Regions from separate parts of the Homo sapiens genome. Here all the other regions are reported to be linked to region 1. The links are microRNA targets in miRTarBase. Many come from high-throughput screens and were not tested one by one. Region 1 holds a microRNA gene; each other region holds the end of a gene's coding sequence.

Region 1 (5,443 bases):
CCCTACCCCGGCCTGAACTTGAGCACTTCCTTTTTTTTTTTTTTTTTAGATGGAGTCTCACTGTAGTCCAGATGGAGTGCAATGGCGTGATCTCGGCTCACTGCAAGCTCCGCCTCCCCGGTTCACGCCATTCTCTTGCCTCAGCCTCCTGAGTAGCTGGGACTACAGGTGCCCGCCACCACACCCGGCTAATTTTTTTGTATTTTTAGTAGAGACGGGGTTTCACCGTGTTAGCCAGGATGGTCTTGATTTTTCGACTTCATGATCCGCCTGCCTCGGCCTCCCAAAGTGCTGGGATTACAGGCGTGAGCCACCATGCCCGGCCAAGCACTTCCTTGAACACAGAGGTGACCATGAGGAGGGAGGCGTGAACCAGGATGACGGGGCAGCAGATGGAGCCTGCCTCCCTGAGACCTCAGGTGACCGAGTGCTGGACTGCCTCCTCCTGCCTACATGGCTGAGAAATAAACTTCTTTTTCAAACCACTGTGACCTGGGGTTTTCTGATACCCTCAGCAAGCCTGTTCCTGTGGCCTGGTGTGGGTCCCCTGACCTGTGGCCTGGGCTGCCTGTATCCGGCCTGCCCCTCTGCTCCGCTGTAAACCTGTGATGGCAGTGGAGGGGCTTGGCCTGGGCCCGCCCCACCGCGAGGTCTTCCCCTCTCCGAGTTCTGGGTGTGGTTTCAGTTGAGCCACGCCGTTGGACTGGGCCGGCCTGGAGGACAGAAGGCACAGGCTCTTCCACATACCTGGCTCGTGGCCCATGGGCCGTCTGCTCACGGGAGCCCTGCACCAGGCCATGCAGAGCAGTGAAGTCAAAACCTCGTTTCCCAGGTCTAAGGTGAACTGGGAGCAGGGCAGGAGTTGGCTCTGTCAGATGCCACAGTTGTTTGGGGACAGTGTCCGTAGAGAATGTGTGGCCCCCCTCCGTGGTCTAGGGTGGAGCGTGGATAGGCCGGTCACTCCTATCCCTGGGCCCAAGGCTCTTTTCCCCTGCCCTCCCGTGGGCTGGGAACTGCCACAGCTCAGACAAAAATCGGCCAGGGCAGGGTCCTGAGGCTTCAGTCCCAGGCTCCTTAGGGCACCCCTGGTGACCCAGCTCCAGCACTGAGTTTCCAGAGGCCTTGAGGATTTCCCTGGGATGCCAGATGGGCCCTTCCTGCTGCTCCTGGGGTCATCTAAGCTCCAGGCTTGGGTGCAGCCCTGGGCCCCTGCCACAGACGCCCTGAATGCACCTGCCCCTCCCGGTCCCCACGCAGCAGCCTCCTGAGCTGCGGATCATTTTCCTAAGAAGGCATTCTACTTGTGCCAGTCCTTACTTAAAGACCCCTGCTGGTGCTGGCAGCGTGCTACCGGGAAGGATGGTATCTCCTGTGCGTGTCCTGTGTACGCTGGCCTCACACGTGTGTGCCTCATGCGGGCTGTGCCCTCAGTCCTATACGCTCTCCCCAACCCTCTTTTAGGGTGTCACAGGAGAAAAATGACACATTCCTAAATCTCTAACACATGGGCTTGAAAACAAGTCTGAGGATGCCCTGCAGAAGGGCCATGGGCATGGACATGGAGCTGGGTGGCCTCGTGCACTGACCTTTCCCTCTTCCTAGCCCCAGGCCCGACCTAGAGGCCACAGCCCCTGCGGACAGGCTGTGGGGCCAGAAGGGCCCACTTCAGAACTTTTCTCGTGGGCAGTGTTTAGGCCACAGCCACCCATGTGTAGGGGTGGCTACACATGGGTGGCTGTGGCCTAAACACTGCCCAAACACGTTATATTTTTTATAACATGGAACTAGATGGCAGAAGTTTAAAGGGAATAAAAGAGCTACTGGAGACGATTTGCAGCTTTCATAAATTTCCAGAGACTGATAAAAACACAGACTTGAAATTGTCCCAAATGAGCCAAAGTGATGAAAACAAGTCTTTTCTAAAACTCTGAATTCTAAGGGAATGTAAAATGCAGAAGTTCAAATCGGGTTTAGAAAACCATAAGAAATAATAGTGCATTCGCCGGGCATGGTGGCTCACGCCTGTGATCCCAGCACTTTGGGAGGCCAAGGCAGGTGGATCACTTGAGGTCAGGGGTTTGGCAGCAGCCTGGCCAACATGAGACCTCGTCTATACTAAAAATAAAATTTAGCCATGCATGGTGGCGCATGCCCTTAGTCCCAGCCACTCCGGAGGCTGGGGTGGGAGGATTGCATGAGCCCAGGTGTTTGAGGCTGCAGTGAGCTGTGATACCACCACTGCACTCCACGCTGGGCAGCAGAGCAAGATCCTGTCTCCAAAAGACAAAACACAAAACAGTGCATAAAAAGGGGCCAGGCACGGTGGCTTATGGCTGTAATCCCAGTACTTTGGGAGTCTGAGGTGGGTGGATCACTTCAGGTCAGGAGTTCGAGACCAGGCTGACCAAGATGGTGAAACCCCGTCTCTACTAAAAACACAAAAATTAGCTGGGTGTGGTGGCGCGTGCCTGTTGTCCCAGCTACTCGGGAGGCAGAGGCAGGAGAATGGCTTGAACCCGGGAGGCAGAAGTTGCAGTGAGCCAAGATTGCGCCACTGCACTCCAGCCTGGGCAACAAAGCAAGACTCCATAAATAACTAAAAAGGGAGCTGATGAGGAGTTATTTCTGGGAAATGGCAAATGCCCACGGGTGACCCTGATGCCAGCAGCTTCTCTCCCACCAGACCTGTGCTTCCCACACAGCCCCACCTGCTCTTGTCTTTAGACTAAGAGCCTGTCACCGGGCGTTGATCTAGCCGGCTTTTTCCTTTGTGTTATGGGCCTGTTCCTTCACCTCAGTGTATTCTCTGCGTGTGCTCCCTTCTGGGAAAAGCAACGTCCCACGTTTGTGTGATTGAAATGTGAAAGGAGAGCCTCATGTCTAGATTGTGGGCGAGTGATTGAGCCCTGTGACCGCTCGCGCGTGTGACCCACAGACTGTGACTGTGTCCCCTCAGCATTTATTTTCTGGATGGTCACAACGTATTCAATGTGTCCTTGAGACAGCCACCCAGCCCTTAGGGTGGTCCCTGCGTGTCCTGGGGCGGGCGACTTCCTGAGGGTGCAGTGCTGGAAACAGAGACTGCTTCGAGCCTGGCCACCTTCCCTCCTGTGCCGGCTGCTTCTAGGAGATGCTGTGGGACGGTGCCCGGCTTCGCGGTGACTACCATGCCCTAAGGAGCAGAGCCTCCAGGATGCCCCCGGGCTGCGCTGGACGCTAAGACCCCAGCACCTAATCACAGTCAGCAGCTTCCCTCCACTGACAGTGATCTGCATGGTCCATTCCTGGCGGCCTGGGGGCCTCGCTACAGTTCAACCTGGCTGGCTTCCCGCTTCCTCCCCAGGGGAGATTAGTGTCGTGTGTAAACTTGGACAAGTCACTGGGTCCTCTCTCCAGGGAGTGCCTGGAGAAATTCAACCCCCAGCTCAGCTGCAGCCCTTCCTGGGTCAGCTCTCCACCCAGAGACCCCGGAGCTTGCCCGCAGACTGCCCGGCCTGCCCCAGCTCTGGGAAAGTGAACTCCAGAGTATGCAGACATGGAGATGCGCATGCTGATCCTGGGCATGAGGGCTGGGCTGCACTCGTCCATTCTGTGCATACTGCCTTGAATTTTTCATATCCATCATAGAAAAAAGTGATTAAAAATAAAGGATGAGATAAACTTGGAGAGAGAGGATGTAAGATGGGCCCTGCTTGCCCGTCCTGTCCCTGCCTGATGGCGAGACAGCCGCCACCCCTCATCGCCCCTCCTCTGCGGTGGGCGGCTGCAGGTGGGCGAAGCTCAGGAAGACCTGTTCCAGCGAGATCTGGCTCACGGAGTAGTCGTCCACGCCGTACTTTTCCTTGGCTTTCTCCAGAATACCGAAAACCTTTGGGGAGCAGAAAAGTCACTGGTAGGAGAGAACAGGGCCCAGGCTCCTCTGCGGGACCTGGGAGTCCTCTGGCAATAGGGGCTGATGAGGCCCCCACAATCCTACCCCTGCCCAGCGCCACCCCAGAGCCCCAGAGAGGTCAGCCCTGCGACGGCACCGTGCTCCCAGGTAGAGGACGCTGGCTAAGCAGGAGCCAGCGGGGATGGGGCCCAGCCTCCTCCCTGTGCTGTTCCCAGCTCAGATTACAACCTTGAGCCAGTGATGTTCCCTTTCTGAGCCAGTTCTTTTTTTCCCCCATATTTTTTTAGAGAGAGTCTTGCTCTGTAGCCCAGGCTGGAGTGCAGTGGCACAATCATAGCTCACTGCAGTCTCGAACTCCCAGGCTCAAGCGATCCTCCCACCTTAGCCTCCCGAGTGGCTGGGACTACAGGTATGCATGATACCTGGCTAATTTTTAAATTTTTTGTAGAGACGGGGTCTATGTTGCCCAGGCTGGTCTAGAACTCCCAGGCTTAAGCAATCCTCCCTCCTCGGCCTCCCAAAGTGCTGGGATTATGGTGTGAGCCACCATCCCTGACCCCTTTCCTGTTTTACACTGAATTCCTTTTACCACTGATAATTTTGGATATAAAACCCCCAAACCAGCACGTATCAGGCTGAGTGTTAGGGGAGAAATGGAAAGTGACTCCTCTGTGGAAAGAGCCTGCAGTCACCACAGAGGGAGAGACCCCTGGAGGGACCTCCCCCTGCCCCATGAGTGCCCAGTGGGGCCCCAGGGACTGCCTCACCTTCGCCCAGCTGAGGTCACGGCCCGGCAGGTGGTAATGGACCATGCCTTGGTGCTCATCTTCCAGGACGCTGCCTGCACAAAGGAGAGACGGTGTTGCTGTGAGCGCCGGGCTGGAGGATCGGGGAGGGTGCCTGGGTGCTCAGCACTGGAGTCCTCGTCCCAGGGATTGGGGAGATGGGACTTGGCGGGGCGAGGCACAGACGCTCCGCACAGCAGATGGGAGAGGCCTAGGTAGGGGCCCAGGGCCCACCCAGTGGGGGCTGCCGGGGCCGGCACACACCTGGAAAGGTCAGGTCCACGAAGGCCTTGAACTCCTCCAGCGCCTCCTGTTGCCCTTCACTCTGCACCTTGGCCCGCAGGGAGTAGCCGCTGCCGAACTTGCTCTTGAGGTGCTGGGGGCTGCCCAGGCACTTGAACTGCCCCTGCACCATGATGGCCAGCCGGGTGCACAGGGCCTCACACTCCTCCATGCTGTGGAGAGGGCGGGACCTCAGATAGGGCTTGGGGTGCCAAAGGCTTGTGCAGACAGGAAGGCATTGGCTCTCCGATCAGGCTGTTCCTGATACCCATGCTCAGTGTGGCTCACGGGCAGACTCTGCACCAGATGCTGATGGGTCTCCTGGCCACCTGGCTCCTCCATGGCCCACCCGGTGCTGAAACTTCCAGTAACCCACAGACCCAGGCTCTACCTGTGGGAGGTGATGATGATGGCCTTGCCAGACTCTCGGGCTCGTGCCACGGTGTCCCAAAGCAGGCGCCGGGCCACGGGGTCCATGCCAGTG
Region 2 (5,000 bases), not on the chromosome of region 1:
CAGATTAAAGCTGGAATCCATCCTGGCCGCACCTGTGGGGCTTTGCACACCAGCCTCCAAAGCCCCCTGCCCTCTTGCTCCTCACCTCCTCCTTGCTTTTTTATTTTTATTTTTTTGAGACAGAGTCTTGCTCTGTCGCCCAGGCTGGAGTGCAGTGGTGCGATCTCAGCTCACTGCAGTCTCAACCTCCTGGGTTCAAGCAATTCTCCTGCCTCAGCCTCCCAAGTAGCTGGGACCACAGGCACGCGCCATCACACCTGGCTAATTTTTTTGTATTTTTAGTAGAGATGGGGTTTCACCATGTTGGCCAGGCTGGTCTTGAACTCCTGACCTCAGGTGATCTGCCCGCCTTGGCCTCCCAAAGTGCTGGGATTACAGGTGTGAGCCACTGCGCCCAGCCTTACTCACTTTCTGAAACAGATTAGAGCCTCCCTCCACGATGACTGTTCCCTCTGCCCAGGAGGCCGTTCTTGGCCAACTGCTTGTCTCACCCCTCACCCCCTTCAGGTCTGTTCAGACATCCAGTTCCCAGAGAGGCTCCCCCAACCATTGTAAGCGACAGCCAGCCGTTTCTGCACACTCACCTTGCCTGCCTATCTTCCTGTTATATTTTTCACGGCAGAGCTCCCCACCCCTCCACCTGTGTCTATATAAGGTCTGTCCTCACTCAAACGTCAGGCTCCAGGAAGCCAGGACTCTGTCTTGCTCCTGGCTGTCGTACAGCAGATTCTCAACGAACCTTGCTTGAATGGCAGCATGGGCAACCAGGACACTTTGCCCTCGAGCCCTGCTGGTGGCATCCACAGCTCTCCATCTTCCTGCAAACACTCCGGGCCAGCGCCTCCCCAGACGCACCCCTGAACAGAACACCTCCACCCGGGGCGATGAGGTTTCTTTGAAGAGAGCTTTCATGTGCCCCAACCTTGGATTCCCCCCATTTTTAGGGCACGTAGGCCTTTCATACTTTACTGACAGCCTGGGTGTAACCAGTAGGAGTGACTATTATTGTGGGAGGTACTTAAACATCTTGGTCAAATAGGGCTTTTCCCATTGTGGGGGTGTGGGGGCACCCAATAAATAGAGCTTCATCCAGATGCTTCTATGAGTACACGGCAGTTCCTAACGAGCTCCGCGTCCTCAAATCCCAGCTTCCCTTTTGGTCTCTTTCGCATCTTTCCTCATAATCTCCATTCACTTTCACAAAACCTCAACCTGGACCCCTAAGGACACTTCCGTTTCCCCAAGTCTGAATTATTCCACCTGAAGCTCTCCAACCTGTATTATTAATAGAATTCTTGGCTGGGCGTGGTGGCTCACGCCTGTCATCCCAGCACTTTGGGAGGCTGAGGTGGGCGGATCACGAGGTCAAGAGATCAGAGATCGAGGCCATCCTGGCCAACATGGTGAAACTCCATCTCTACTAAAAAAAATACAAAAATATTAGCTGGGCGTGGTGGCGCACCCCTGTAGTCCCAGCTACTTGGGAGGCTGAGGCAGGAGAATCGCTTGAACCCGGGAGGCAGAGGTTGCAGTGAGCTGAGATCATGATACTGCACTCCAGCCTAGGAGACAGAGCGAGACTCCGTCTCAAAAAAAAAAAAAAAAAATTCTCAGGAGAAACTGTTTAAGACGCAGATAACTATGTACAACCCCGAAGAGATCCTGAATCAGCAGGTAGAGCCACGAAATGGTACCTTGAACAGATTCCAAGTGACTGATGTAGTGGCCACCCTGGTTCAGGAGTTCCTGGGGAGGGGCAGGGGAGGGCCAGAAGAAAACTATATTTTTAGCTAAAAGACCTCAGCTTCTGGCTTGGCATGGTGGCTTACACCTGTAATCCCAACGCTTTGGGAGGCCGAGGTGGGCAGATCACTTGAGCCCAGGAGGTAGAGGCTGCAGTGGGCTGAGACTGTGCCACTGCACTCCCACCTGGGTGACAGAGCGAAACTCCATCTCAAAAAAAAAAAAAAAAAAAGACCTTGGCTTCTGTGTGAGGGAATAGGAAGGGAGGGAAAGGTTTTCATTTTCCAGCTGTTTATAAAAAAATAAACTGGTACTTTGAGGTAATTTGCGTCACCAGATACCTATTCTAGAAACCCCAAGATCTGTGGGACATCCTTCCACATCAGTGGAAAGCCATTCGCAAAGAGGACAAACGGCTTCTTCTCTCATGGATCATTAACAATTCTCAAAGCTTGAACCCGTATCTGATAACCAGTCACATCTGGCTGGGGGCACTGTTTGAGGAAAGGGGAACCCTTTCCTCAAATTTAATAGTCCATGCAATCCTCACCTACAAGAGACTTAACAGGACACTTAATTTGCTAAACTTTATTTTATACATACACGTTTACATTTACTAGTCATGGTGTCAACTTGTTAACACAACGAAGCCCTAATGGACCCGTTTTGAAATTAGAAGCTGGACAGTTACAGGCTTTGGTCTCTTCAAGAATCCAATTCACCCCTGGGTTTCGCTTGGCACACACCCCAGGAGAACGTCGATGCACACAGCTGTGTAGCTGCAAACGGAAACCACTCTCTTTTCTCTCGTATTTTTCAGTCAGACTCACTCAGGATTTTGAAATGAATCATCACGAGAAATTTGTTTTAAAGTTGAATCACTGAGAACATCTAACAACTGTTCACATTCTTTATCACAAAAACTGAAGTCGGAAAAGACGCCCTGAAAACTTGCAAGGGCTAATACTCTATGATAGAATATTACTACTGTTCACCATGTTAATACATTTACTTACTACCATACACCTGAACAGTCACGGCAGAACAAGAGCATGTGAATGACGAAAGGAAACTTGCTTTCAGGGTGTCAGATTATAGAACATGCACAGGAATTTCTTCCACTTCTAACCTCGCTCATCAGTCACATTTACAAGAAACTCAATTTTAAGCAAAGAGATGCCTGAAATAACTAAGACGTGTACAAAAACAAGTTAACCTATGAACACAAGGTAATATTCTGATAGTCTTCGATGTGACTTCCAACATATCTGAGTAGTCACTTTTCAGTTTTTTAAACACGTGAGAAAAATAGATTTGGATTACATCTTTGTGGACGGCTACGATACAGTTTGGAAACCATTATCTCAGGGACCCTGCTCTCTCCTCTACACATGCGCACGCAAACACACACACACACACACACAATGACACATGGTGGTCTGGTCTAATATAGTGTGTCTGAATTCAGAGGGCAGACATTAACAGCCAAGTTTTGTTTTTTTGAGAGAGAGTCTCACTCTGCTGCCCAGGCTGGAGTGCCGTGGCACAATCTCGGCTCATTGCAACCTCTGCCTCCTGGATTCAAGCAATTCATCTGCCTCAGCCTCCTGAGTAGCTGGGATTACAGGCGCGCGCCACCACGCCCAGCTAATTTTTGTAGAGATGGGGTTTCACCATGTTGGTCAAGCTGGTCTTAAACGCCTGACCTCGTGATCGACCTGCCTCAGCCTCCCAAAGTGCTGGGATTACAGGCGTGAGCCACCGTGCCCGGCCAACAGCCAAGTTTTAAAAGATTTTTTTCCCCTCTTACTATAATGTGAGTAGTGACCTTCTGCTGCAAAGATGGTGACAGTTTGGTGCAAAGATGGTGACAGTTGGGTAGATGGATGGAATTAGAGCTGGGGACCTAGGAATGCCTGCGTCCTTCCCTATAATCACCCCCCTTCCCCACAGGATTCCTGAGAGGGCTCATCCCAAATGGGAATCAAAGTGCCATTTTTACTAACAGACTCTAAAACTCAAAGACTTTGAGGTCTAGGCAGACATTCTTTTTCCCTAAAACTAACTCTTGGGACCTCCTGGCTAGATAACTGGAGGATGGAAGCTGGAGACTGAAGGAGCAATAAAACCAGGTTTGCAGCGAAGGTCCTGGCTTAACTTACCCCGCTGGTTACACGAGAGGAAGGCGGGAGGAAGAATATGGCAGGGCCACCCAGCTCTTCCAAATGCCAGGGCCTGCAGAGGTCGCTGACCATTCCGAGGAGGGAGCAAGGCGTGGGGGAGAAAAGCTGAACATGGATGAGTGTAACAGTGACCCTGCTCATGCATAAAGGGGAATGAATGTTCTAGAATTTTCCCAATCCTCTTACCAACTCTCCTGCCTCCGAAGAGAAGGTGAGTAGAGAAGGCGGTGAAACGGCAGGCCTGGTAGAGAAAAGGGCATAGAGATCCACCTCCCTTCCCCAACTCCCTCCCACCCAAGACCTCACCTATCGTTTACCTCAGGGCCAGATCTCTATCAACAGGGGCCCTAAGAGAGTCCAAAGTCTTATTCAGTGACAAGAGAGAACTTGGTTGACTTGGTACTTCTTCCTTGTTCTTTCAACTCCTCAGTATGGGTGGTCCCCCAGATCAAACCTTTCTGGATTCTGCAAATAAATGAGAGAACAGATCAAGAAGGGAAGCAGAGAGGTGTCATTAGGAAATGCATTACTTCCAAGAAATTTCTGGGTCCCTGAACATTTCTATTCCCCAGCCAGGTCTCTAGAAAACTTCACCCTTAAAGCCACATACCCTGCAAACACCATAACTCCAAAGTATTAATATTTTTTTTGGGGGGAGGGGGGAACAGGGTTTCACTCTATCGCCCAGGCTGGAGTGCAGCAGTGTGATCTTGGCTCCCTGCAACCTCCACCTCCCAGGTTCAGGGAGGGTAAGAGCCCAGACCGCCCTTCCAGGAGCCCCTGAAGGCCGATGCTGGAGACATCTGGTGGGCAGATGTCTGGAGGCCAATCCCAGGCCTTGGCCTCCCCAGTAGCTGGGATTACAGGCACAAACCACCATGCCCAGCTAATTTTTGTATTTTTAGTAGAGATGGGGTTTCACCATGTTGGCCAGGCTGGTCTCGAACTCCTGACCTCAGGTGATCTGTCTGCCTTGGCCTCCCAAATCATTAAATTCTTTTTTTTTTTTTTGGAGACAAGAGTCTCACTCTCGTCACCCAGGCTGGAGGGCAGTGGCACAATCTAGGCTCACTG
Region 3 (5,000 bases), not on the chromosome of region 1:
GATTGATTTCCAAACACTGAACCAGCCGTAACCCCATTTGATCATGATTCTATATTATTAATTCTATATATTGCTGGATTTTATTCGCTAATATTCTATTCAAGATTTTTGCTTCTATGCTCATAAGGAATATTGGTCAGCTTTCTTTTATTGTCCTGTCTTGTCCCATTTTGAATAAACACCCTATTCTTTTAAATGAAAACTTCTTAAATGAAATACATTACCAAAAATCCCATAATTATCATTACCATTTTGAAATATTTTATTCGTTTTCATATGTTAAAGTAGGTTTCCTCAATAAGACAAGCCAGTACCCAGGCTTTGTTCATGGTGTTTGACAGTGGGTAAAACCACTGGTCCCTCTTGAGCCTTGTGCACACGATATAGATGATGGTGGAGCATGTTCTTTTGAGATCTTTAATCAATTCTGTAAGAGACCTCTCATATATATATATGAGAGAAATTTTTTTATTTTATATTTTTATGCAGAAATTTTAATTTTATATTTTAAAAAAATATATAGGTGAAATATATGTATATACATGTGTACATATATATGTGTGCATGTACATATATACATACTATACATTTTTAAAAAAAAACAGAAATGAGTATCACTAACACAGCACCAGCTAACATTTACCTTGCACTTTGCATCTGGTATTCAGCTAAGCACTTTATAAAATTACCTCCTTTAAACAAAACTAGTTTTTTTTTTATCTGTACATGGTAGACAATTCAACAGGCTACATAACTAGCCAGTGGTTTCACAAAGTATATTAAGAGGTAAGCTGCATCTTGCACCCTGACTCCAAAGATTATACTTCAAAGTTGCTGCCATAAGCTTTCAGATACTGTCCTGTAACCTATTTCTTCATCCAACATATCCACTTTATCCTTTTTAATGGTTGTATCATATTCCATGATAGATCATATTTTCCAAAATTATTGCAATAATATATTCCATCGAATATACTTTTCTGGCAATGTGACTCTGATACTCCTCCAAAGAAGTATGTTCTATGTTCCCTCCCCTTTGAGTTTGGACAGGCTTGACTATGGAGAAAGAGACACTGAATTTTTTGTTGTCGTTATTGTTTGTTTGTTTGAGACAAGGTCTCACTCCAGTTGCCCAGACTGGAGTGCAGTGGTGCAATCTTGGTTCACTGTAACCTCTGCCTCCCAGGCTCAAGCAGTCATCCCACCTCAGCCTCCCCAGCACTACAGGCACGTGCCACAGACCTGGCTAATTTTTTTGTATTTTTTTGTAGAGACAGGGCTTCACCAAGTTGCCAAGACTGGTCTTGAACTCCTGGCCCCAAGCAATCCACCCACCTCAGCCTCTAAAAGTGCTGGGATTACAGGTATGAGCCACCACGCCCAGCCGAGATGCTGTTATTTCTGATGCTAGATCACAACAAGCAATAACAGTTTCTCTGCCTGACTCCTCAGAACCCAGGCACCAAGCTGAGGAGGCCTATGCAGCCACATAAAAAGGTCACATGTAGGTGTTCATATGCAACTGCCCTAGCTGAGGTCCCAGCCAACAGCATCAACCACCCAATTTGTGATGGAGCCTTCAGTTGTGTTGTCTGATAGCAACATGCGAACCATACATGTAGGCCACATATGTAAATTTAAATTTTCTAGTAGTCACATTAAAATTCAATTTTAATACATTGAGTTTAATCTATCTAAAATATAATCAATATAAAAACCATTAAGATAGTTTAGTTTCTTTTTTTATACAAAGTCTTCGAAATCTGATGCACATTTTATACTTACAGTCCTATTTTCAATCAACACACTAGTCTCCATTCAGACTGGCCTCACTTCAACTGCTCAGTAGCCACTTGTGGCTATCATAGTGTGGCCGCTTCAAATGACCCCACTGACCAACTGTTGATTCCAACCTTGAGTTTTCCCAACTGAAACCCCAGACATCATGGAGTTACAAAGCTGTTCCTGCTGTGCCCTTTCTGAATCCTTGACTCACAAAATCTGTGAACACAAATACTGGCAACTAAGTGTGTGACGGTTTATTATACATCTGTAGTAACTGGGATGCTAGCCTATGAGAGTTTCATAACTTATTTAAACATTTCCCTACTTAGATATTTCTCCCACCTCTTTCCAGGATATTAGTATAACCAATGACGATGAGCAATACAAGCTCTGTAAGTTAGTCAAATTATTTCCTTAAATGTTTGAGGGTGGCATTTCTGGGTCAATTAGAACATACATTTACATTTACATTCATGTTGCCAAACTGTTATCCAAAGCAGCTTAACCAGTTCTTACCAACAATCATCTATGTGTGTGCAGCCGTGCTTCTTTTGATTAAATCTGGCCCTCTGCAATCATCAGTTGAATACTTAGATCCTTTCTTTTCTATTTTATAACATTCCTAAGTTTGCTTTATTGCTTTTACATTGTGAACTATATCCATGATATATTTTTATCACAAAATATTCAGGCAATGCATTGACTATACAAAAGAAGTACTATACCATTATTCTTTACTTTGGATCTTTTTCAACTTAATGTCATAGACAACTTTGCCTGTCAGCTCATAAAAGTCTAACTCACCAAATGTTAATTAATTAAAGGACTGTCTTTTAATTAAATGTTGAGTGACTACATGGTAGTCCAAAGACTGCATGTATCTTCAACATTCCTCTGATGACAGATATTACAGTGATTCCACCTCTTCATTACTACAATGCTGTAAAGACCACCTTTACTTTTTAATTAGATTTTAAGTAGAAATGTTAGGTCAAAAGGTCAAAGTTGGTAGGCATAATCATTTATATTTCTTTTTCTGACAACTGTACATTCACATCCAAGACCATTTCTCCACTGGAATTTTTATATTTATGTATTTTAAGGACTCTCTAAATAGTCTAAGTGTTACCTGTTAAATATGATGATGGTAATATTTTCTCCAAGTCCAGCCCTTTGTATTTTAATACTACGAAGCCTCTAGTTGCAGAAACTAAAAGCTTTTAGTTTCTGTGTGGCATTTGTCTTATTTTTATGACTTCTGAGTTTTCTTATATAGGAAGATAACTATACTAAGTTACAGAAGATACATGAATGATGCTTGATTAAATATTTCATTTCAAAGAACTCAGTCAAAGTCATAATTTCACTTCATCATACCAATATAGGTCGAGTATCCCTTGTCTGAAATGCGTGAGACCAGAAGTATTTAGGATTTCAGACTTTTTTGGACTTTGCAATATTTGCATGCAAATAATAAGGAATCTTGGGGGTGCATTTTTTTTTTTTTTTTTTTTTTTGAGACGGAGTCTCGCTCTGTCGCCCAGGCCGGACTGCGGACTGCAGTGGTGCAATCTCGGCTCACTGCAAGCTCCGCTTCCCAGGTTCACGCCATTCTCCTGCCTCAGCCTCCTGAGTAGCTGGGACTACAGGCGCCCGCCACCGCGCCCGGCTAATTTTTTGTATTTTTAGTAGAGACGGGGTTTCACCTTGTTAGCCAGGATGGTCTCGATCTCCTGACCTCATGATCCACCCGCCTCGGCCTCCCAAAGTGCTGGGATTACAGGCGTGAGCCACCGCGCCCGGCCGGGGGTGCATTTTAACTGCAACCCATCACATAAGGTCTGGTGTAGAATTTTGTACCTGTTGGTGCTCAGACAAATTTTGGATTTTGGAGCACTTCAGATTTCAGATTTTCCAGTTATGGATGCTCAACCTATACTACATCCTCATCAAAGATAACTGCTGTTAGCTGAGTGTGGTGGTACGTGCCTGTAGCCCCAGCTACTCCAGAGACTGAAGTGGGAAGGTTGTTCAAGCCCAAGTTCAAAACTACAGTGAGCTATGATCACATGGCACTCCAGCCTGGGTGACAGAGTAAGAGCTAGTTTCTTTTAAAAAAAAAAAAAAAGAGAGAGAGAGAGAGATAACTGCTGTTAAGATTGGTCTTTATTTGTCCAGGTCTTTTTGAATGCATATAATATAGATTTCCTGAAACTTGCTTCTTTAACAAGGGTATATTGGGTATATTATCATGGGTATATTTCTACTGTTGTATTTTTTTACTTAGAGATGGAGTCTTGCTATGTTGCCCAGGCTGGAGTGCAGTGGCTATTCACATGCACAATCATAGTGCATTACAGACTCAAACTCCTGGGCTTAAGCAATCCTGTCTCAGCCTCCCAAGTAACTGGGACTACAGGCATATGCCACCATGCCTGGCTTTGTACAGTATTTACAGCTCCACCTCATTCTTTTCAATTAGCACACAGTATGCTATAACTACTTCCATACTGACATACATTTAGTTTCTTCAAATATTTCACTAGTAGAACCTCACAATGAATATCCTCACAAGTGATGTGTTCTCTCAGAAGTACAGAGTATTTCTGTTAAATGCATAATTTATTTAATGTCTCCTCTATGATGGTCAGAAGGAATAAACTACTCTGCACAATTTGCCACACTAACTACATTTCATGGCTCTTTCTTTATTATGAATTTTCTTATGTTGCTTAAGGGCTGAACTTCGGGGAAAAGCTTTCCCACATTCATTACATTTATAAGGTTTTTCCCCAGTATGGAGTCTCTGATGTTCAACAAGGCCTGAGCTGTGCCGAAAGGCTTTCCCACATTTCTTACAGTGATAGGGTTTTTCTCCAGTATGAATTCTCTGATGTCCAGTAAGGGTTGAGCTCTTTGTAAAGGCCTTCCCACAGTCACGACACTGATACGGTTTATTTCCACTGTGAGTTTTCTGATGACCAGCAAAGGATGAGCTATACCTGAAAGATTTTCCACATTTACTGCAGTGATAGGGTTTCTCCCCAGTATGCATTCTTTGGTGACTAATAAGAGTTGAGCTCTTCCTAAAGGCTTTTCCACATTCATTACACTGATATGGCTTCTCACCAGTATGGATTTTCTGATGTTCCAACACAGTTGAATTATCCCTGAAAGCTCTCCCACACTTGTTACATTTAAAAGGCTTCTCTCCA

The links. The annotated mature microRNA hsa-miR-4717-3p reads ACACAUGGGUGGCUGUGGCCU and lies in region 1 at 1,724-1,744, shown strand. An mRNA with a match to its seed (bases 2 to 7 or 8) in the 3' UTR can be bound and repressed. Matches are read on the target gene's strand: a 7mer-m8 pairs with bases 2 to 8, a 7mer-A1 pairs with bases 2 to 7 and ends in A, and an 8mer does both.
Region 2: miRTarBase lists PNMA8A as a target of hsa-miR-4717-3p. Seed matches in the 3' UTR shown: 7mer-m8 at 3,172-3,178.
Region 3: miRTarBase lists ZNF485 as a target of hsa-miR-4717-3p. Seed matches in the 3' UTR shown: 7mer-A1 at 4,118-4,124.

The regions. Positions count from the first base shown.
Region 1 is chr16:2,272,938-2,278,380 of GRCh38, forward strand. MIR4717 (microRNA 4717) reads left to right here and starts at 1,683; the gene lies at 1,683-1,754. It overlaps ABCA3 (ATP binding cassette subfamily A member 3), which reads right to left. Exons shown (of 33, transcript NM_001089.3): 30 at 5,351-5,443; 31 at 4,942-5,132; 32 at 4,660-4,733; 33 at 2,944-3,868. The coding sequence ends at 3,737. MIR3677HG (MIR3677 and MIR940 host gene) reads left to right here. Exons shown (of 3, transcript NR_132988.1): 3 at 50-135.
Region 2 is chr19:46,464,187-46,469,186 of GRCh38, forward strand. It overlaps PNMA8A (PNMA family member 8A), which reads right to left. Exons shown (of 3, transcript NM_018215.4): 3 at 2,317-4,391. The coding sequence ends at 4,375. Among named protein-coding and RNA genes, the nearest start is that of PNMA8A, 4.9 kb to the right of the region's middle.
Region 3 is chr10:43,616,838-43,621,837 of GRCh38, reverse strand. It overlaps ZNF485 (zinc finger protein 485), which reads right to left. Exons shown (of 5, transcript NM_145312.4): 5 at 3,934-5,000. The coding sequence ends at 4,469. Among named protein-coding and RNA genes, the nearest start is that of ZNF32-AS3, 9.5 kb to the left of the region's middle.